2 separate regions of the Homo sapiens genome follow, and region 1 is linked to region 2. Evidence: fine-mapped expression QTL. Tissue or cell type: whole blood. Region 2 holds a variant in brackets; the other region holds the start of a gene. All regions are shown on one strand. Distances are between the middles of the regions. Region 1 holds the start of ABHD2 (abhydrolase domain containing 2, acylglycerol lipase). Region 2 overlaps ABHD2 (abhydrolase domain containing 2, acylglycerol lipase).

Evidence for each region. PIP is the estimated chance that this variant, and not a neighbour inherited with it, causes the effect.
Region 1: ABHD2 starts here. The variant in region 2 is fine-mapped to the expression of ABHD2 in whole blood (INTERVAL, PIP above 0.99).

Annotation. Positions count from the first base shown.
Region 1 is chr15:89,082,872-89,094,580 of GRCh38, forward strand. ABHD2 (abhydrolase domain containing 2, acylglycerol lipase) reads left to right here and starts at 5,585. Exons shown (of 11, transcript NM_152924.5): 1 at 5,585-5,692. LOC124903573 reads right to left here. Exons shown (of 7, transcript XM_047433432.1): 3 at 9,305-9,370; 4 at 8,264-8,412; 5 at 5,964-6,061; 6 at 5,197-5,815; 7 at 4,690-5,070. The coding sequence ends at 4,856. It overlaps CARMAL (coronary artery disease region linked MFGE8 regulatory lncRNA), which reads left to right. Exons shown (of 4, transcript NR_183882.1): 4 at 1-1,358. RefSeq lists enhancers at 4,348-4,993, 5,604-5,783, 5,725-6,244.
Region 2 is chr15:89,107,110-89,118,818 of GRCh38, forward strand. It overlaps ABHD2 (abhydrolase domain containing 2, acylglycerol lipase), which reads left to right. Exons shown (of 11, transcript NM_152924.5): 2 at 6,616-6,715; 3 at 9,213-9,412. The coding sequence starts at 9,219. Among named protein-coding and RNA genes, the nearest start is that of ABHD2, 25 kb to the left of the region's middle. RefSeq lists enhancers at 4,140-4,678, 5,752-5,881, 8,446-9,021. The variant T/TTA (reference allele first, on the strand shown) is at 4,832.

The sequences.
Region 1 (11,709 bases), 24 kb before region 2:
CTCACTCTGTTGCCCAGGCTGCAGTGCAATGGTGTAATCTCAGTGCAATCTTGGCTCACTGCAACCTCCGCCTACCAGGTTCAAGCGATTCTCCTGCCTCAACCTCCCAGGTAGCTGGAATTACAGGCGCCTGCCACCACGCTGGGCTAATTTTTGTATTTTAAGTAGAGACGGAGTTTCACCATGTTGGCCAGGCTGGTCTCGAGCTCCTGACCTCAAGTGATCCACCCGCCTGGGCCTCCCAAACTGCTGGGATTACAGGTGTGAGCCACTGTGCCCGGCCTGTTTTTGTTTTTTTGTGGGTTTTTTGTAGTTGTTGTTATTTTTTTACACTGCATCTCGCCTTCTCCGGAAATAGTTTTAAAATAGCTCAATAACATAAAATTATGTAGGAAAGGGTGTATGATGAGCTTATTTAATGCACAAGTTTTATCGACTGTTTTGCAATTAATAGTATGAAAAACTCAATTTTTATTTCTGTAATTAAGAATGACATCAGGAAGAGGAATGCATGGTGACTAAGAAGAAGTCATCATTAGCCAGTCACCTGTCAGATATTCTGTATGTATCTGATTATAAGATTAGAACACTTTTTCATCTGTGTGTGTGCGCGCGTGCACGTGCGTGTATGTGTGTTTGTGTGTTTCATGAGCATTTTTAGTACTGGGTCCTATATATGTAAGTATAAATATTACCATAAAATTTATCAACCAAATTGGGACTATTTGAGAGTCACCTGGTGGGAGGGAGGGCACTATTAAAATTTTGCCAGGACAACATACATAAGCCAGGAGTGTTCATCTTATGATTTTACTATAGACAACTCACATATAGCTTAAGAAAGCAGCTCAAATCACAGACAAGATTATTTTTCATGATCGTTTTCACTGGCCACCAGAAAGCCTTTTCTAATAACAAAAGGACCACATTTTTGAATTTCATCATAGTTTGTCCTCATGGAACTATTGCATGCTGGGACTTAAAGCCTCTAAACAAACTTCATCTCCATTACCAATAAGAAGCCAGACAGTCGACCTGGTAACAGGACATTCTGAACCTCCTTCCTAGACTGCATGCAGACTGCACCGGCTGTGACAATAAAGCCACAATATTGGATCCCTCAGACTGCACCATGTCATGACTGCAGGAATACTTTATGAACCTCCAGGCTGCAGCTTTTACTATTATTCTCTTAGCCTCATCCTTTCCATTTCCCTCACAGTGATTACACTGATGAGGTCTAGTCTCAAAAACCTTAACTCGGTCCTCAAACCGTTTTTGGTAACCATATTCGAAAGGAAAAGTTTCTCGCACCAGGTGGTGAGATTTTGCTAGTGTAAAAAAAAAAAAAAAAAAAATCCTGCATGTGTTGGAGAGTGTGTATATAGGAACTGTCTGTACTTTCCACTTAATTTTGTTATAAACCTAAAACTATTTATTTATTTAGAGACAGAGTCTCCCTCTGTTGCCCAGGCTGGAGTGCAGTGGTACGATCTTGGTTCACTGCATCCGCCGCCTCCTAGGTTCAAGCGATTCTCCTGCCTCAGCCTCCCAAGTAGCTGGGATTACAGGCACACGTCACCACACCCAGCTAATTTTTGTATTTTTAGTAGAGACGGTGTTTCGCCAATTGACCAGACTGGTCTCAAACTCCTGGCTTCAAGTGATCCGCCCACCTCAGCCTCCCAAAGTGTTGGGATTACAGGCATGAGCCACGGCGCCTGGCCCTAAAACTGCTTTAAAAAATAAAGTCTATCTATATTTTCTAAAAATCCTGAATCCTGTGATCACTACTTCTGAGGGCTAGAACTTAGAAAATGAGTGAGGACCTTAGAGGAAGGTTCTGAAATGGGCTCCTATAATAGCTGTGGCAAACATTTATTAAACATTTTTAGGTATTTGCCAGGTACTGTTTGATGCACTTTGCATCTGTGAACTCATCTGCCACTCAAAGGACCCCATGAGACAAGCACTTCACTGTCCTCTGCGTTTTACAGAAGAAAGTAGGGCACAGAGATGTGCTGTACTCGCCCAAGGTCACAAGGCTAGGAAGGATGGAATCAGGATCCAATCCCCAGCAGTAGAGCTTCCAAATCCCCTTTCTCTGAACCATCCCCCGAGGACACAGAATAACAAAAATGACAAACTGAGTGAATTGCTGATTTTCCTTAAAAGAATAAATAGAACATATTATCTGCTCCAACCACTGCTCCCTGCTGTCTCCCAGAGTACCTTGACTTTCTCAGGTTAGTAAATCCTGCAGAGGCCCCAGTTGAGTTAGAAGCAGTTCTGCTTTAATGAAGTCCTGCAGCTTTGGCCATCCCAGAAGGTGACTGGGGCATACCCTCTCCCTTGTTCTTTTTTATTACAAGGTACTGTCACGGTTTTGAAAATTCACTTTACAGCCACATCCCAACACCTGCTTATCTCAGGCCAAGGCTCACCAAATCCTCAATCCCAACGGGCCACTAAACTTGAAGGCAAAAATAAGTCCATTTTGTCTCCTAAATGGCCTCCCTCAGAAATGATTTATAGAATGAAATAATATGATTAAACAGAATATGGCAAGACTGCAAGCAGAAGGGAGGAAACAGAAACCAGAGACAATTAAGGAAACAGTTCTGTGTGCTGGGAAATGATAATGGATCATTCTTTAAGCCTGCCAGAGCTGCAGAGAAGATGCCCGGATCCTTTTACTCTTCCTCCTCTTCCTGAGCTCAGTCTGTGCCTCTTTTTGAGCCTCTGTGACATAATTGTGTTTTAGAATTCCTGAACTGGAAAGATGTCCTTTTCTGGAACTGGTGGCTGAACCTATGTTCCTGAGATGGGAGAAAAAAGCCATTTACACAATGGCGAGCCCATCTGCAATCTACTCCTAACAGCTGCTTTTTGTGGCTCTGAATCAAGTTGGAGAAATCATCCTGGATCTCAGGAGCCACTTCATGCTTTTCAGGGCCTAACAAGACATCTCACTTTCCCTTAGCAAACACAGGCAGAAGCAAACCTGTATTGGGCTGGGCCTATTTCCGTAACATGCATGCAGCCATGTGTATGGCTACCAAGCAGCACTGTTTAAAGACAAGAACCAGAAAACTGTGGATCAGAACCAAATGTGTACATAGATATGTGTACACACCCCTCCAAAACTAGTGACAAATCTTTTTTGTTTTTTTTTTTCTGAGACAGAGTCTCACTCTGTCATCCAAGCTGGAATGCAGTGGTGCAATCTCACTGCAGCCTCTGCTTCCTGGGTTCAAACGATTATCCTGCCTCAGCCTCCTGAGTAGCTGGGATTACAGGTGTGTGCCACCATGCCCAGCTAATTTTGTATTTTTAGTAGAGATGGGGTTTCACCATGATGGCCAGGCTGGTCTGGAACTGCTGACCTCAGGTGATCCTCCTGCCTTGGCCTCCCAAAGTGCTGGGATTACAGGCTTGAGCCACTGTGCCCAGCCTATTTTTTAAATTATTATTAATTTTTAATTGACAAAATTTGTATATATTTATGATGTACAACATGCTTTACTTATTTATGTTTATCATGTTATTATGTTTATTTGTCAAACAAGGTCTCACTCTGTGGCCCAGGCTGGAGTGCAGTGGTGCGATCACAGCTCACTGCAGCCTCAACTTCCTGGGCTCAAACAACCCTCCTGCCTCAGCCTCCCCACTAGCTGGGACTACAGGCATGCACCACCACATCAGGCTAAATTTTAAATTTTTTGTAGAGACGGGGTCTCACTATGTTGCCCAGGTTGGTCTCAGACTCCTGGGCTCCGCCTCAGCTTCCCAAAATGTTGGATTACAGGCGTGAGCCACTGTACCGGTCCATGTTTTGATACATGTATACATTGTGGGATAGCTACACCAAGCTAGTTAACATATGCATTACCTTATATACTTATCTAGTGATAATCTAAAGCTCTTTTTTGGAAGTCCAAACTGTTTTAACTCAGAGTCAGGACGATGGGGTTCATCACTAAGAGACTTTGCTACTGAAGCCTGGGTTTTTCTTTTCCAAGATGAAAGAGAATACAGAGGAATATATAAACACTGAGATGAAACCTTTTTTTTTCAAGGTAACATGACAACTGAATGAAAAATAGAGCAATGGCAAAGGATTCTTTCTTCTCCTTCACTCTGATGTACCATGGCTGTGAGTTCTTTCAAAGACAGACACAAAGGGTCTGGGGCTACATTCAGGCCTGAGAAGCTATTTCTGTCCACACTCTGTGATGTCTACACCTTCAGAATGGGGAATGGGTTTCAGGGGTCTCTGACAGATAGAGCTCATGCAATGATTTCTGGTCCGGTGCTGATCAGCCTTCAAAGGATGTTATTTGGTTACGCTCCATAAAACTTGAGCCAGCCCACTGTTCCTTGTCACAACCTGAAATATGTTGGGAAAAATTTACATGGTAACAAATGCCACTTCCCTTCTCTGACTAAATCGCTCCTCTCATTTCATCCCCTGCTCCCTCTCTCCGAGCCCTATGGGGCCTTGGTAGGGTGGCCTTGTCTGCCCTACAGGGGTTGCATTTCAAGTCGCTCAAGTGTTCTATTCTTGGTACACGACATGCCATTGCAAAAGCAGTTTCAGGCTCATAGAATTTTAGAAATGGGCCTAGTTTCCCAGCCGGATGAGGTGAGTGGGTGATGGGGGAAGAATCAGCCTTGATTGAATGCCTGTTGAGTGCCAGCCACTGTTGGCATTTATCAGAGTTTATTTAATCTTCTCATCAACTACTATTGTTACCCTCAGTTGCCAAGTGAAGGGAGCATGCGGGAAGGTTAAGTGACTTGCCCAAGCCCACACAACCGGTAGGAGCCCCAATTCCAGGCCCTAGTTCCAAGGCTACATTCTTCCAGGCGGCCTCCAACTGGGTTGGTTAAGGGTTGAAAGGACAGTGGGACAATAACTGAGGCCCGTATTGCCCAGAGCGTCCCCATCCCCCGTCCGGAGCTGGAAGAGGCCATAGACCGCTGCCTCCACATCTTTTCCTCTCCTTCGGGTTCGGTGACTCACGACCCTTCTTCCTCTCTCCCGGGATATGACCTCAAATTTCACCCCTGCGAAATTTGAGTACACGTGAGTCAGTCAGTCGGCCTGGACCCATAAGAGCCCCAGCTGAGCTACCAGCAGCTGAGCTACCAGCCGACCTCATTCCTCTGAGCCCAGTCGACAGCTGACCTTACCCAGCCCTCTAAAGCAGTTTGCGGTCACAATTACCCGTCTCTTCACCCCGCCCCCATCGACATCAAACACGACCCACCTTCTAGCCCTCCTCCCCTTTCCCCGCCCACTCCGGGCTGGCCTTATCCAGTAGCGTCTGGGTCCCTGGACTAAAGCCGTCAAATGTAACCAATTGCTGAGGAGCTCTCCCCTAAGAATCCCGCCTCCACTCTGAGGAACAGCTTCGCTGATCAATGGATCCCCTCCTAGACGCAATGAGCGCGCGGGGCAAGTGGAGAAGCGGCTGAACTGCCCAATGAACAAGCGGTTTCCGTGGTTAGGGGCGTGGCAGAAGCGGTCGTCAGGGGCGTGGCGGCAGTTACTTGGGCGGGGCCGGTAGCGGCGGGAGCTGCACTGGCCAGGGGTTCCGGCTGTATATCCATGAGCGCCGCTGGCAGCCGGGGAGCTGCAGGAACCAGACTGGGGGCGAGCTGAGCACCTGTAGTCAATCACACGCAGGTAAAGCCACGGCCGAGCGAGCTCCGCGGAGCGGGGATCGCACCCCGGACCCGTCGAACCGAATCTCCGAGCCCCGAGGTCCCCGGCGTAGCTCGGCCCATCACGCCGCAGCCTGAGGGGATCCTGGGGGGCCTGTCATCTGGCGCCGTGGGGGTCCCAGGGGCTGGCTTGCCCAGTGGTGGGGACAGCCCAGATCGCGGCGGGGGATACGCCTTCCTGAGGCCCTTTGTCCCCTTCTGCCCGAGGAACCGAGGTTGGGGACAACCCCGACCGCGGCCTTTCCCCCATTGGTGCTCACTCCTGGGTCTTCAGGGGCCTGGGGAGGGGTCTGCCGGTTCAGGCTCGGCGAAGAAGGTCCGGGATCCGCACCTGGAAGGAGAGGGCCGAGGGGCCTGATTACAGCCCGAGATACCCGAGAGGCCTCTGTGTTTCGGGGCTCCAGGGGCTCACGCAGGACCAGTGGGTTTAAGTTCTAGAAAGGCAGCTTTTGACCCACTTGGAAGCACATTTACCGAGTTCGGCCCCGCGACCGGCACTGTTCTAGGCCCTTCGTGAGCTTTTCCCACAGCTAGAGCTGTCCAGCAGCGCAGGAGGCTGCCTGCCAGGCCGGGCAGCTAGCGCCTCGACCTTGGCGATGTCCAAGCAGTGGCCTGATGACAGCCACCTGTGTCGGATGCTTAGGACTCCCAAGGGAGGACTGCATGACCCATCTGTAAGGGCCTTCTCTACCCACAAATGCACTCTAAGTGGCCTTTGATGCCTAGCTTGAGAAGAGTACTTCTGGGGGTCCATTAGGTTCCAAGTGGCTGTTGAATTCACCCATAATGAATTTTGAGGTTTCAGCTCTCAAGAGTGGGTGTTAGCAAAGAGACTGGATTATACAAAAAGATAGAGGTTTATTTAGCCACTGTGAAACTCCTTGTATTTGAACTACCATGGACCGCTCTCTTAATCTTCCCAATCTCTCTTTTTTGGTTGCTGGACCTCCAGTTTGTCAGTTTCACCTGCATTCCAGTAACCAAATCCAAAGGCATGTTCCAAGAACAGGCTCCACAGAGGGACCTGGAGAGACTGCAGGTTTGGCAGAGTCAACAAGATCTGTGCCCAGAGCTTTTCGAAGGCCGTTTCCTTACAGCCACATTAAGCAGAGTCCAAAAGAGAAATCCTTCACTACCCTCTGTCATTTGCCGGAATAGAGAGAACATAATAATCTAAAGGTCAGGAGGCAGAGAAAGAATCTTAACACACCTTGCTGTGTGTTTTAGGATGAATTAATCTTTGAACATCTAGTCAGAAAGCAGTCCATATACAGCTGGTAGTCAGCACGGACTGTGACATTTTAGAGCTGAAGGCACCTTAGATAGAGCTCATCTCTATCTAAGTCTAATTAGGTGGACTCTCATTCAGTCTCCTCAATGCACAGGTGAGGAAACTGAGGCCTGGGGTGGTCACAGGGCTGGTTGGTCATCACAGGCCCATGACTAAGGGTTGATCTCTTGACTGTATTTAGATCTAGCCAGTGCATGACTTATTTCACTCCAAGCTTAGTTTGCCCATTCTCAGTGTTTTAAGTTCTAGGGGAGTCCAGAGAGGTTAGGAGGACAGATTTTGGTGCCTGAGTGCCTGGATTTGAATCCCAGCCCTGCCTCTTACTGGCTGTACAACCTTGGGCAAGCTACTTAACTTCTCTGTGCCTCTGTTTCCTCACCTCTAAAACAGAAATAATAATGATACTTATGTTAGAAGATTGTTTTGAGAAGTGCATGGAGTTACTACATCTGAAGCATTTAGAACAGTACCTGGCACAGGGTAAGCACAATAGATTTGCTAGATATGATATTCTGTTGCCTTTTTGTACATTTTTCTTCATATCCACCACCCAATACTCTATCAAGAGCTAATTTTTCCCCCAGTCCCCTTCCCCCCACCCCCAAATTCATTTAACATATTCCAGATTTCATTTTAACACAGACAGCTGCAAGGGGTTTCCAAGTCACGTTGCATTTTATACCTTACTTATTTTTGTGATTCAGGTAATTTAGTTTCTATGTTAGTTCCCCCTTGCAGTTACATTCTTCTTAGGCTCTGAACCCTTTAAAATTATCGTTAAAAGCAGGCAGTGAGGGGTGGGAATCCCTCGAAATGGTAAAGTCCTGGATGATACCCGTGTCCATGGTGTCCTTCCAAATATGTATTCCCTCTCTTCAGCCCTCCTCCCAAGCGATGAGTGTGATGCAGCTTGATTCTAAATGGATGAACATTTTTAGATTAAGATTTTATGAGCCACTGTATTAAGTGCTTTTCGGAAGTTCAGGGATCATGTGTCAACTGCATTTAAGGAAGTTACTTAGTCATTCGAATAGGGGGAGCACCAGCAGCGCCTGCCTGGCCTGGCAGAAGCAAAAGTGTGTGACTGATCCGTGCTGGCAATCTAGCTGGTTCACTGGTTTATCTGTGTTTTTCCTGTTCTTTTCCAAAGCTTGAAATAAACCAGATGGCAAGTACAAGGGAATGGTCTTTTTCCTCTCATTTTAGTCAGGGTCGTTCACTTTTTTCCCTTTTTACTCTCACCTTCATTTCCTTTATCGCCTGCGTGGGTCTGACAAATAGGCACTCTCAGTGTGCCAGCCAATTCCCTTTTGATGAAAAGATGCCTGCCACTTTCATTTTTTGCAGGAATCCAGTCACCTTTGATTTTCTCTTCTGTTTTTACTTGTTTTCTAGATTGAACCAAAGATTATCACTTCATTAAATGGCACCTTCTCATGCTTTATTTTTCTTGAGTTGATTCTGAATTTCGGTTTTTGTTTAAGCTGTTCTAGAGATCAGCCATTTTAGAATAATAGTTTTCATTTCTTTGCTTGTGTATTAATATGGGCCCCTTTCTCTCTTTCTCACTCTCTTTTCTCAGTATTTTGGTGGATGAGCTTCTCATTTGCTGTTACTCGTTGCTTTAAGCATTTACGCCTTTTCCTGGTAATCTCCGGCAGGACCCATAACCTCTGTAGTGGTTCTCACTGCCCTTGTTCAGAGCTCCTGCCCCGAGCAGGAAATAATTTCTTTGGTCTTATGGGAGACAGGGGTAGAGTCTGTCTTATTTTTTGCCTAAAATCTGGCTCTTTTAAAAGCCCCAGGAGAGAGACATTTCCAATATAATTGAATTTTGTGTGGCAGAATTTCTACCATGACCTACAGCTTACAGTATTCCCATTTTTATTGCATTGTGAGTTTTGAGTACTCCATGACCAGTTTCAGAGTATAGATGATGTGGGGCATGAGTTGCTTTAGCCTTTCTGTTTCATCTTGGGCTAAGCTATCCCCAGGAACAGAGCAATGAGAAGTTCAGGGTGCCTCTTAAATGTGTCTGGTGTCAGGATTTTATAGCAGCTTTTCATGGTTCAGCCTTTTTGGCCAGTGCATGAGTAGGACATTTTTAAGCCCTGTGCTGCTGTTTCTTTGTTGATACCATACAGATGCTACATTATCTCCTTTCAGGATTTTCATATCTGCAGATTGATTTTTGTTGTCTTGTCCAGGGCATCATATTTTTGGATTGAATGTTTTCTGTTTGTAAAATGGTTGGTGTGGACAGACGATAAGCTCCACCATTACCCCTGAAGCTTGTGGACTGGGGCCATTTGGGTGAGGGGCTTGTTACACACCGACTCATTGTCTGATCTTTCACAATAAATAGCAGACAGGTGAAGAGCTTTTTAGAGAAGTGGAACGTTGGTACCCTTGGATTTGCCTGGTTTCTGATTTTCTTTTGTTGTCTTTAAGTGGAGGTTCATTAAGTTCAACAAATTAAGCATCTGGTGTGTGCCAGGAACACAGTTGACAAGATTAACAAATTAGTTTGGTTTGTTGCTTAAAAACTATTTTGTTTTAAAATTGTTTTTAATAGAAATTTTAAAATTTTTTAATTCAAATTTTAGTTTTTAAAAATAGGCAATACATTCACATGATGAAAGAAAATTTTTTAAAGGCACAAAAGGTTAACTAGTAAATACATCTGTGTGTACCCCTGACCCCTGATCCTCAGAGGCAACCAGTATTAGCGATTTCTTCATCCTCCAGAAGTGGTCCCTGAACTTCCAAGGGATTTTATACATCTGTAAGCAAATTCGTTAAACATATTCTGTACACCACCCCTTTTTGCAGAAATGGTAGCACACTGCATACATGCTATTTGGAACCTTGCCTTTTTCACTTAATATTTCTTGGCAGTGTGAAAAGAGCTTCCACGTCATTTTTTATGAAGGCCGTCTATTTTAGATATCTGTTTTCTGTTTCTAAGGATGCTAAAAAACAGTCTTATTTAGGCAGCAGCTTTGCTGGAGATCTTAAAGATCTTGTGAATATTTGGAGGCAAATATTTTTCTTTTCTGTGAGAGCCCGGGGGAGGTGCAGGGGAGCTTCTAAAGGTCAGCTGAGAAGGGAGAGCTGGGGCACTGGAGAGTGAGGAACGCATTGGTCCTTGGGCCCTTCTTCGCCTTGCCGTCTGTGCAGAATGTGCTAGCATTTCCAGGGAAAGTTTGCCGTTTGCTCTCTGTTCTCCAGAGAAGCTTCCTGGCCTCCCCAAGTCACATTTCCAGCATCTTTTTTCATTCTTTTTTTTTTTTTTTTTTTTTTTTGAGACAGAGTCTCACTTTTGTCTCCCAGGCTGGAGTGCAGTGGCGCAATCTTGGCTCGCTGCAACCTCTGCTTCGCGGGTTCAAACGATTTTCCTGCCTCAGCCTCTCAAGTAGCTGGGATTACAGGCACACGCCACCACCCCCAGCTAATTTTGTATTTTTGGTAGAGACAGGGTTTCACTATGCTGGTCTCAAACTCCTGACCTCAGGTGATCCTCTTGCCTCAGCCTCCCAAAGTGCTGGGATTACAGACGTGAGCCACCGTGCCTGGCCTCATTTCCAGCATCTCTGTTGCATTTCATCCCGTCTCCTGCACCACAGCATCACTCCATTTGTCCTGCCTTTGGGCGTCCAAGAGGAAGCCTGCCCTTTGTCACAGCACTTTCTGTTTGGGTAGCTTTAAGTGTCTCACCCCTTCTTTTCTCTCACCCCAGGAAAAACCAGCTCTCACACCTGCTCCTCTGTAAAGCGTCTTCCCCAAGCCCACACGTAATTTTGTTGCTGTCCTTGAAAGTATTTCCCAAGATCTCCAAACCGCTTTAAACTTCCAAGGTCTGAGCCTGACCTGGCCTCGCTAACAAAGGGTTCCACTGATGCCGACTCTAAGAAGAAAGTTTTCAAGGTTCTTCGTATTTGAACTTTCTATGGCTAGGCTTATGTTTAAAATAACCACACTGATTTAAACATGGTCTTATAGTCTTCAGTGGCTCCCAGGTCTTGCCTCTCGGGTTTTTTTTCCTCTTTCCTTTGAATGTGCCTTAACCTTCGTCTTGCTTTTATTTACCTCTGAGTCTGGTTTAGAGCCACCTGGAAATTGAATGGAATCTTTAGTCTATTAGTCTAATCTAGAGTCCTTACCTTCTGGCCTTTGCTCATTGCAGAGCCCCCACATTATTAGTCAGTTGTACCACAGATACTGTGTTACATAAGGTGAGGAGAGGGAGGTGGTGTTATCAGTTCCACTTTTTCCAGGCTAGAGTGCAGTGGCCCGATCTCGGTGCACTGCAACCTCTGCTTCCCGGGTTCAAGCGATTTTCCTGCCTCAGCCTCTCATTTTATCTTGGATAAAAGAGAAGCTTTGAAAGATTGCCTCCCTATGTGTACAGTCACTGTAGGCATGTATTTGTGTACTGTTTACTTAGTCATGTCAATGAGGGCAATAAAAAACAAAAATCAGGAAGCCCAACATGGATTGCTACATTTTAATTCTTTCAAATAAGGAAATACAGCAGGGCTTGGTGTCACTACGCCTGTAGTGACAGCACTTTGGGAGGCCGAGGCGGGCGGATCACCTGAGGTCAGGAGTTTGAGATCTGCCTGATCAACATGGTGAAACCCCGTCTCTACTAAAAATACAAAAATTAGCTGAGCATGGTGGTGTGC
Region 2 (11,709 bases):
AGTCTTTCCATGGGCAGGAGAAGCCCCTCAGCAGGAGAGGGGTGGTGTCAGGAGCAGGGGTTCCAGCTGTGCACTGCCAAGGATGCATTTTAGCACAGAAAACAAGAACAATGCATCTTGGAACTGTTTATGGGACATGATGATCACCACTTAGTATCCAGTGATTTATTAAGTCTAACATGGTTCCATTTTAGAAGATATGGTTCCATTTTAGAAGAATCAAGAAGAGTATGTCCTGGAATTAATTTTAAACTCATTGGAGGAGGCCCAAGCAGTTAATCAGCTAGTGAGTTCATTGCTAATGAGACTTGTGTGTCAGTTAGGAAGGAGTATGTTTTGTGGTCGTTTCTATCTGTCAACTTAGGTTGTTTACTGAGGCAAAATGGAGGAAAGTTTAATAGTGGAGATGGTAATAGCGAATATTTTGCGGTAGTACCCCAAAATATTAAAAATACGGTAGTATTGTATGCCGGCATTGTTTTAAAATGCTCTTTATGTATTAACATGTTCAGTTTACAGATGGTGTTCAGAGGGATTAAGGAACTTGCCCCAGGACAAACACTGTGGCTGGATTTGGCACTGGCTGTGTCACTGCAGGACTGGACCCTAAATGAAATTTACATCTTCAACCAGATGGAATTGGAACAGAGAAATCCTTTAGGGGTTTGGTTTGGTTTTCCTTGAGAGGTATTTGCCTTAGGACCCATAAGTATCAAAGCTTGTTGTGCTAGGTCCTTGAGGGTTGCAAGGAAGAGAGATCTCCCCCTCCCCCAGCTGTCTGTGTCCTCTGAGCTCTCTCACTTTGCTGATAGCTAAGAGGAAAGGAAAGGATGGTTCTGATAGCTGAATCACAGAGGCAAAGAAGCCAAGCCAATAAGTATTTATTCACAGAATGCAATTTGTATTATGTTAAGAAGTCATCTGTGGGTGTTCATGTCAGTTAGCTGTCATCTGAATTGATGGGAGCGTGTCTGAGTAACAAGGGTCCTTTCAGAAGGAAGTGGCAAACGGTCCCTTCAGCCACTAAGGACAGGAGCGTGGAACTCCTGAGTCATGAGAGGTAATTTGGGCATATTCTCTCACCATTCTAGAAGCTAGAAGTTTGAAAACAGGTTTTACAAGGTTGGCTCCTTCCTTAGGCTCTGAAGGCAAGACTGTTCCCTGCTTGTCTCCTCTTCTGATGGTTGCCAGCCATCCTTGGCATTGCTTGCTGTAGATACGTGGCTCCAGTCTCCACTTCCATCTTCACGTGGCCTCCTCCCCTCTGTATCTGTGTCTTTGTATCCAGATTTCACTTCTTCCAAGGACACCAGTCATGGGGTTAGGACTCCCTCCAACGAGTACGACCCCATCTTAACTTGATTACATTTGCAAAGACCCAATTCCAAATACCGTCACATTCACTGGTTTCAGATGGACATGAATTTTGTGGGGAGGGTCCCTATTCAACTTGCTACACCAGGTAATGGGTTTCCTTTGTTTGGGATCTCTCTGCTCTGTTTGTTCGTGCTTTCCGCACTGTAAGTTGTGTCCTGTCAGTGAATATTGGTGTTCCAAGGCTGAAAGCATCACGATCCCATGCAGGTGGAATGAATATGATGAAATTATTGGCACAGCTGAAAGAAAATATATAACTGTTTAATTTATTTGAAGAAAGAACAAAGGCCCTGAGGGTTGTTAGTTCTTAAGAATTTTACTGTGTAATCATCTATGAAGTAGGCTGGAAAATGGCCGTTTTCTGTTACAAAGTACAGCGATAGTTTTTTCCTGTGCTCTTTAGCCGAGGACCGCAATTCTGTCCCTAGAATCTCAGACATTTCTAGCTGAAAGAGACCTTTGGCATCATCTACTTCTAATCTAACCTTCTCATTTTACAGATGGGGCCTTTAGGGCCCAAAAAGATTAAGTGCCTTGATTCAAGGTCATCAGCCAGGAAAGGGCAGAGCAGACACTAGGACCCAGGTCTCAGAGCCCCCAGACTGGAGCTTTTCCCAGTGCAGTGGCAGTTTCTCACTCTATCTGTGCCTCCATCTGAAAATAATGCTTTTAGCCAGGGGAGAGCAGAAAGAGGCATGGGAGACACAGCTCAGGCCTTCACCTCTGGTGGAAATACCAGTCAAGCTTGTCTTAGAGACCAGGGGCAACACTGGGAGCTCCTTTGGTGACTAGATGTTGGGCATTTGGTAGCACCTTGGTTTCCTTTGTTAATGCGGACTATAAATGGAATTCTGACTACCATTTACAGCACCTAAATCCCATTCATAAAATGGCAGGGAAGGTGTGGGCTAGCCGACAGAGAAGGGATTGCCACAGGGACACAGGAAGCCCAGCCCATCATGAAGGTGGAGCTGGGTTTGGGGTGGGGGTAGGGAGACGCTTCCTTTCCATCTGCGACATACCCAGCCCTCCAGCTGTTCTCTGTGACTTCTTTTCCCTATCTAGGCTGCCTGATGTTCATTTTAACTGGATTTCACCTGTCTGGAAAGTGGGGAGGGCCACACAAAATAATACAATGGAATCAGAGTTTGCTGTATCTAGAACAAGTTCAGAATATTAATATATAGTGACAAGTCAGACTTGGGGAAAAAAGAATACCATAAAACAAAATGCAGCAAGATAAAGTGAATGTGAAAATTTTTCTTCTAAAATTACTTATCTCCTCATTTAATACCTATGTATATGCACGTACATGCACACACTCATACTTACACATGCTTCTACATTTTATACAGTCGTTCCTGTATATCCTTGGGGAAATAGTTCCAGTTCCCCTGCAGATACCAAACCCACAGATGATCAAGTCTGATATAAAATGACATAGTATTTGCATATAACCTATGCATATCCTCCTATATACATTAAATCATCTCTAGATTACTTATAATACCTATTACAAAGTAAATGATGTAAATAATTTAAATACTGTATTGCTTTTATTTAAATTTTTCTTTTTATACTATCTTTTCTCTTATTTTCTTTTTTTTTATTTTTTAAGACGGACTCTCACTCTGTTGCCCAGGCTGGAGTGTGGTAGTGTGGCAACCTCCACCTCTCAGGTTCAAGTGATTCTCCTGCCTCAGCCTGGGATTACAGGCACGTGCCACCATACCTGGCTAATTTTTTTGTATTTTTGGTAGAGATGGGGTCTCCCCATATTGGCCAGGCTCATCTTGAACTCCTGGTCTCAAGTGATCCGCCCGCCTCGGCCTGCAAAGTGCTAGGATTACAGGCGTGAGTCCCCTGCACCCGGCCTTATTGTCTTTTTTTTCAAAAATTTTCATCTGATTGGTTGAACCTGCAGTTAAGGAGGAACAACTGTACTTCATTCGCTAAGGCTGGGTTCTAGATCTAGCTGCTCCATGAGGACTTCCTTGCTTAATTTTTTTTTTTCTGGACTGATTTTTATCTAAGCTTCTAAAGTACAGATAGCCTTAACATAAATTTCTTTTCTCCCTGGTTAAAATGAGAATTTACTTAACTGCCAACCTTCACAGTGCTAGGTGCACAGGAGGTAGTCAGGTACTTAATTAAGCCTGCTGAAACTCCAGGGAGTACCCCCAGGGACATGCAGAACTGACCTGTACCTCAGGACTTCAGGTTGAAACCTTGGATCGAGGCTGTGTAGTTGGACCACAATAATTATAAATCTCTCATAGAATTGCCTTCCCTGAATTGAATTGAATTTTAAAACCTTGGCATTTTTTGAGGGTTGAGGAAATTAATTCTCTACTGCATTTGCTATTTAAAAAAAGTTGTGGGAGGACATTGTCTGTCACATCACTCAAGGTCCCCTTACATAAAGTCCCACATTTTTTTTAAATAATTCTGTGCCAGATAAGCCCTGTTTCCACAGAGTTTCTCTTATGCCACTGGGCGTAAGAGCACAATATATGTTAGCTCTCTTTCCATTTTGGAAACCATAGGTCTGACTGGGTTTCCCTTTTCCCCCTGACAGTCAGAAAGCTCAGATAAATTAATTAAAGCATAATCACATGCATTAAAGCTTTATCACATATATAATTGTTGTGTATGTTGACATACATATTTTCCTTTCCAGTGTTTTAAAATTTCTCCTTAGATTTTCTTAGTTGCTATTTTAAAGCTTTGTTCTAATAATAAAAATGTTTGTAGTCATTATGAATTTTGGGAAATAGAAAAAAAGAAGTCGCCAATACTCTTATAACGCAGTGATTTTAGCATTCATAAAGATTTGAATATATAATTTTCCTTCTATATCTTTAGAAATTGCCAAGTAAAACAGTCTAGAAGTCACAGTGGCTTCAACTGCTCATTCTCTCATGTAAAAGAAGTCCTGAGATAGGCAGTCTAGATCTGATATGGTGGCTCCATTAAGTTGTCAAGAATTCAGATTTCTGTCTCTCTGCCCTGCTGTCATCTTAATGGGGCTCCTAGAGAGACTTCAAGGTCACTTCATGGCCCAAGAGGGCTGTTAGAGTTGCAGCCATGTTTTCTGCATTCCAGGGATGCAAGAAGGGAAAAGGGCAGACAAAGGGTGAACTCCCTGCCCTCTAAGGAGCTTTCCCAAAAATTAGATCTACCCCTCCAGAGCTGACCAGAATTTAGTTACATGGACTCACCTAGCTAAGGGAAGCCAGAAAGCATTCACCAGTCTTATACATTTCCATATCTTTCCCTATGCATATAGATTCAGTAAGGGTGTTTTCTTGAAGCTGTCTCAAATAGTTTGTGGAAAGAGTTAAGGTATAAATAAACCTCAATGAAAATATCAATAAATAAAAGGCACTACATCTTGTTATCCTATCAGCATTGCCACTCTGCCTTTCCATCATTTTTTCTAGGGATTTTTTAT[T/TTA]TATATATATATATATTGATTGTATATTTTTCAAATATTCAGTCAACACAGACCTTTTCAGGGCTAGAAGGGACCTTAGATGCTTTTCTCCAAAGGTTGCATATTCAGATGCTTACGGGGACCATTCAGGTACCATACATTATTAAAGCGGGCCAGGGATCAGTGTTGAGGTCACCACTAATAGGGAGTGGTGGGGACTGTGGCCACCTGGAGAGAGCTTGCTGGGTCTGAAGCGGGGCAGCCCTGCTCAGCTCTGTCCATTGTTGCCGTGTGAGAATGCTGGCCCTGTGTTGCCAAATCTTCTGATTTTGTTTCCAAGAGAAACCAGAAATCTAGATTTTTATCTGAAATCTCCTGGTGTTAATAATATGGCAATGAATAAATTAATTTTTTTTAAATGCCAGCTGAATGCAACACTGCCTGCCCCATGGGCTGCCAGTTTAGGATCTTTGATCTGGTCCATGCCCTGTTTTTCATTTGGCAGCCAAGCCTGTGGGGTCAGGTGGCCTGTGATGTGGCTGAAGACTTTGCTCTTCCGGCCCCACCTCACCACAGCCTGGTCCTCTATGACTAATTTGTCTCAGAATAGGGACAGATAATAATTGGAAGCTGGGCAAGACTGTTCTGAAGGTTAATTGATTCTTTCCTTCAATGGGCTTTGTTTTTCTTCTGAGGTCATTTTGGTGTGGTAGAATCAGAAAAAAGAAATTGGGCTTGAATCCCAGCTCTGCTGTTTACAGCTGTCTGACTTTGGGCAAGCCTCTGGTGTCTTGTGTGTGTCTCCTGCACCATCCATTTTCTTGCTTGCCTCTCTTTCTTTCTCACTTACCTGCCTTCAAGTAGCACAGCATGGTGATTAAGAGGAGGATCTCTTGGGCCAGATATGAAAGCTGGCTTTTCTACCCACCAGCTGTATGACACTGGGAAAGTAACTTAAACTTTCTATGTCTCAGTTACCTTGTCTATAAAATGGGGTAATAATAGCATCTACCTCATAGGGTACAGGAAGGATTAAATGAGCTACCATATGTCAAGTTTGAAGAGCAGAGCTTAGCACGTAGATAGTGCTGCATAAACATTGGGCTGTTTCCCCCATGTTCTCTCTTTTGCTTCTGCTGCTTTGGAAGCCATAGATCTTTTAGCAGCTTCTTGCACTAGGCTCAGCTCAGGTCCCCCATCTGACAGCAAGCACTTTTAGCTTCTGGCGCTTCTCAGCAGCCAGCCTCTGGCCATAGTCTGAACTCAGACCCTACAAGCAATGCAATCCCCTACCTTTTGCTTTTGGCCCTGTTCTGTTTCTGGTACTTTGTTTTTGAGCCCATCTGTGCCCTATTACTTTTCTCAGCTCATATTTTTTTCTGTCCCTGCTGTATGTTTGGAAGAGAACAAATAAGTCGACTGGCTGTGCTGTCTCGATCTCAAGCCTTGCTAAGTTATTTCATTGGTCACACAGAGATGTTACCTGTCCTGTTAGGCATTTCTGGAGATTATGTTGTGAGATAAAGGTTCAAAGCAGTGTGAATTGGCTTTAGCCAGAATTAGGAACACAGCAGAAAACTTGTCCTAGAAACCAGAGAGAGCCTGTCAGTCTTGGTGGATTCACAAAGCCTTCCCGCAGCAGGCTTGTTAAAAAGGCCAAACATTCAAGAGTGTGGCATACATGTTAATTAACAAAATTGTCTTTTCCCTAAAGACTTTAAATGCAGAGGAACTTGACTGTGCTTACGTTTCAATTAAACTGCTTCTTTTTCGTTCTTTAAAACATTACCATCCAATCTTTTTAGCTTTTAGGTTTGTTTGAATAAGAGATCTGACCTGACCGGCCCAACTGTACAACTCTTCAAGGAAAATTCGTATTTGCAGTGGGAAGAATAAGTAACATTGGTATGTATTGCTGAGACTCTTATTTTTGTTTCTCCTCCCCTTATGTTAGGAAGCAGTGAATAGAAGTGGGAAGGGAAGGACTGACTTGTTTAATTCAACAAGTCCACCCCAAACCAACAAGGAAACTGGTAGAAACTACTTGCTGCATTACCCTGTTCTGTTTCCAACAAAGGTGATGAGGAAGAACTTCTAGTTCAGTTCTGTATTACCAGCATATAGTCAGAGAATTTCTGGTGGATTTTAGTTTTGGTCCTCTAATAGAATGTGGAGACTTAAAAGCCTATATTAACAAGCTGCATCATCTTGGACATTTGTTTAGCCTTTGTTTGGCATCCGTGGCAGGGTTTGGACAAGGTGAGGAATGGCAGCCACAGGTTAAACCTATTGGGCATCTTAGTGCAGTGCTATGTACTTTTTTAGGCCACAGACCCTTTTTAGAGAATCTGATTAAAGCTGCGAACCCTCTGCCCAGAAAACTGCTCATGTGCACAAACTTTCACATGATTTCAGGGGGTTCTTAGACCGCAGGATCCCACAGGGAACCCACAGACCCCAAGTTAAGGATCCTTGTTTTAGGGGTTTATAGACAGCTTTCAGGGGATATGACCCCAGGAGTGAGGAGGAGTGTCACCAGAAGTTAAGTTTTTTTTGTTTTGTTTTTTGTTTTTGTTTTTTTGAGACGGCGTTTCGCTCTTGTCCCCAGGCTGGAGTGCAGTGGTGTGATCTTGGCTCACTGCAACCTATGCTTTCCGGGTTCAAGTGATCCTCCTGCCTCAGACTCCCAAGTAGCTGGGATTACAGGCATGTGCCACCACGCCCGGCAAATTTTTGTATTTTTGGTAGAGACAGGATTTCACCATGTTGGCCAGGGCTGGTCTCGAACTCCTGAGCTCAAGTGATCCACCCACTTTGGCCTCCCAAAGTGCATGATTACAGGCATGAGCCATGGTGCCCAGCCCAGAAGTTAAGTTTTAGGAAAACTGTCTCCTCACAGAAGTTCAGTGTAGCTGAGTTTATATTCATGGCCTAGCCTTGATTTGAAATTGTGTCAGTAAGTTTTTAAAAATCCTTGTCTTGCCCTGATGGTGGAAGACTAGTTACGGAGCTGTGATCTTTTACTTCCATTCATTACTGAATTAGGAATCCCTGCCAGAGATTTTCTGCCAAAGTGACCTCGAGTTTAGAAAAGGGTTTCTGAGTCCTCTCTGGACTTACTGTAGGTCTTAGGAAAGTTCAGTCGGTTATACCCCAAACACAGTTGGTGGAGATTGTTTTGTTCTGCCTGTCTCTAGCACTGGCTACCAGAGCTCTCATGATGACTGTTGTTAGCAGAGGCTACTTGAAACCATTCCAGGGGAAGCTGTTGCCATAGCTACCTTGGCTATGAGAGTTACCATTTTCTCTTTTTTGTTAGCTTGTGATTTCCCTGATTTTTAAGGTTAACAGCTGATGTTCTGTTTTTCTGCCGAGCAGCAAGGAAAATACTGGATTTTTGTTGCTGTTGCTTTTGTCATTGCTTATGTTTGGTTTTATATGTTTGGAGGTATGTGTGTGTGTGTGTGTGTGTGTGTGTGTGTGTGTGTGTGTGTGTGTGTGTGTGTGTGTGTTTTGTATATAAGGTAAAGTTACTTCAAAAGAGAAATATTGGGAGAGCTTGGGAAAGGCCAGATGAGCATATACATTTTCTGTATTCCAATTTTAGATTTTGACCTAGTGGTCAATTTGGTTTACTTTTAACCTAATTTTGGACTAATGGCTATAGTCAGGTAGCCTCCGCAGGGGGAAAAAACAAAACAAAACAAACTAGCCGAGCTCTATTTCATTCCTGAAACCCTTAGTAGCCAGGATCGCTGCGACCTGGGCTGAGTCTGACCCAGACTCCAGCACTGGGGAGCCTGTGGGGAGCAGATGGCTGAGTCAGGCTGAGGTTGCTTTATCTCAGCCTGCTCTGCAAATAAAGGGGTGAAGCCAGCAGGCAGTACAACCACACCTGGTGGCACCAGCAGTCCTTTCCGGGTTTCTGTTCAAGGCTGTAAACACAACATTTAACACACACCTGGGGCACCAGGTGCAGGTTAAGCCTACAGAGAGGAAAAAAAACAAAAGGATGACCTGTTAACAAAAATCAAAGTGCTACCCCTAGTCCTGCAGCCACCTCTTCGACTGATCTTATTTTTCCCCCTCCGATAAAGGACACTATTCTTAGCATTTTTCAATTTTCTGATTTGCTCATCTTAGAAATGCTTGTGAAATTATAAAAAGAAAACACAGTACCCAGTTTATCCATGCTCAGACTGTTTGTGATTTGGATTATGGCCAGTTGATTAGTAGCTGTAAGATGCTGGTGGTGTCTGCCTGTCAGGAGCCTGCGGAAACATCTGAATTGTGACACACCGTCACTGGCAGTATCTCTTAGCCCACCATGCGTCTGTAGGGTGGTGGGCACCACCCGTCCTCACTGTGCTTGTAAACTTAGACCTGTGCCTCTGCTCCCCAGATCAAGATGAATGCCATGCTGGAGACTCCCGAACTCCCAGCCGTGTTTGATGGAGTGAAGCTGGCTGCAGTGGCTGCTGTGCTGTACGTGATCGTCCGGTGTTTGAACCTGAAGAGCCCCACAGCCCCACCTGACCTCTACTTCCAGGACTCGGGGCTCTCACGCTTTCTGCTCAAGTCCTGTCCTCTTCTGACCAAAGAGTGAGTAGACCTCATGCCCTCTGTATGCTCAGCTGCTGATGTATTTGGCTTTGTGTGATGTTCAAAGAAGAAACTTCTCTCATCGTGTCCTTAAGGCATCAATGGGATATGACGTCACTGGTGTTAAAATAGCCACAGTCTGATTGCAGTCTAGTGTTTGAATCCTGGAGGGTAGGAGAGAATCAGATCTCTGTTGCCTGAAACATTCCTTCCTCTACAGTGTGATGTCATTATCCATGACAGGGACTTTGCAGAAAATAGTAGTCATTTTTAGGCAGATATGGAAAAGTTGGACAATATTCTAGTCCTTTAACGAATGCTTTGTTGCCAGTTCTAGGATGGAGAAACTATCCTCACCCAAAATAATTAATAAGCAAAAAAGCACAGATCCATTAGTTGAGTACTCTCCATCTGCCTTGTTGAAAAATGTACCAAGCATTAGCTAAGAGAATGCACTTAAAGAGAGTGCTTTGTATGAGTGAACCAGGTTTCCCTATAGAAGCCCAGATCTGTATTTTTTTTTAGATAGAGTCTTGCTCAGTCACTCAGGCTGGAGTACAGTGGCATGATCTCGACTCACTGCAACCTCCACCTCCCGGGTTCAAGCGATTCTGGTGTCTCAGCCTCTGGAGTAGCTGGAATTACAGGTGTGCTCCACCATGCCCGGCTAATTTTTGTATTTTTAGTAGAGACGGGGTTTCGCCATGTTGGCCAGGCTGGTCTTGAACTCCTGACCTCAAGTGATCTGCCCGCCTTGGCCTCCCAAAGTGCTGGGATTACAGGCATGAGCCACTGCACCTTCCTCCAGATCTGTATTTTGGAGGCAGCAGGGGCGGGCTCTGCTTCTGACAGAGGAAACTGTAGTTGTAAAATGAAGGGAATCTGCACTCTGTGTCACACATACTGTTTTCAAGAGATGCAGTGTTCACTTTTTCTCTATAGATGTCTTCTGAATGACTGTGTCTTCCTCCAGGGCTCAGGCCAAGCCTCGTGCACAGTGGGTCTGAATTCCCCACTCCTTTTGTCATGCTGCTTCACTCGCTTTGTGCTTTTTCAAGCTTACTCCATTCTGCCTGTGCCTTCTCAGGCTGCAGCTACTCAGAGAGATGTCTTCCTCAAGTGTGTCCGTTCAGCACATGACTAATGCAGTTGCTAAGACCCAGTGGTGGTAGAAGCTCTTCCCTGCATCCTGATAGCACCTCTCATCACCTCTTTTGGCTGTTGGGGACACTGGGTGAATGATTCTCTTCTAAGAGCAGACAAATAGGCAATGAACATCTGAGAGTCTGGGCCCCTGCTTTGTGTAGTTGTCTAGTTAATTTTCACATGTACTATTATGTGCTTTAGGTGTTTTGGGTGTACATGGGCGGTATTCTTATGCAGTTTTCTCATAGTTGTGACAGTGATGTCATGACCCCAAGTCAAGAGAGAGATTGCGTAATAGTGGTGGACACTATAAATGTCATCATACTGAATTTGGAACTGCCCCTGCTGAGGGGACTTTTTATTACAGTAGCCTCCACAGCCAGGCACAAGAGCAAGGACATGGTGTTCTTATATGCAGTGTTTGCAGTTAAAAATCAGCTCTGTAAAGGGTGTGCACGGTATATGTTTTGAAAATCATCCAGTATTTGTCATAGTCATATTTTGAATGTTTCTTTTTTTCTTTCTTTTTTTTTTGAGACAGAGTCTCACTCTGTCACCCGGGCTGGAGTGCAGTAGCATGATCTCAGCTCACTGTAACCTCTGCTTCCCAGGTTCAAGCGATTCTCCTACCTTAGCCTCCCCAGTAGCTGGGACTACGTGCCACCACGCCCAGCTAATTTTTGTATTTTTTGGTAGAGACGGGGTTTCACCATGTTGGCCAGGCTGGTCTTGAACTCCTGACCTCAGGTAATCTGCCAGCCTCAAAAGTGCTGGGATTACAAGCATGAGCCACGGCGCTCGGCCTGAATTTTTTTTAATACTTAATTTAGATCAATAACTTCGACTGTTACTGAAATTTGCACTCACTTTCAGCTTACAGTTTGGGTAGGACTGCTAGACCCAGTTCTTTTGTCATCTCATTCTTAGAGAGCTCTTGAAAACCAAAGTATTTAAAACCCTGCAAGTTTCTGTGCAGATGAGTGCAAATTTCCACCCAGCATTGGTTCCTGAGTAATTAGAGGAAGGAAGCCATGCAAAAGCTGCTATTGCCCAGGCTCCAGAAAAACATCATGTAAGGTTTGATTCCATACTAATTGTTCAAAGTGTAAAAGAAAGCTGACTGTGGCAGTTTTTACCTCCTTTTCTTTTTT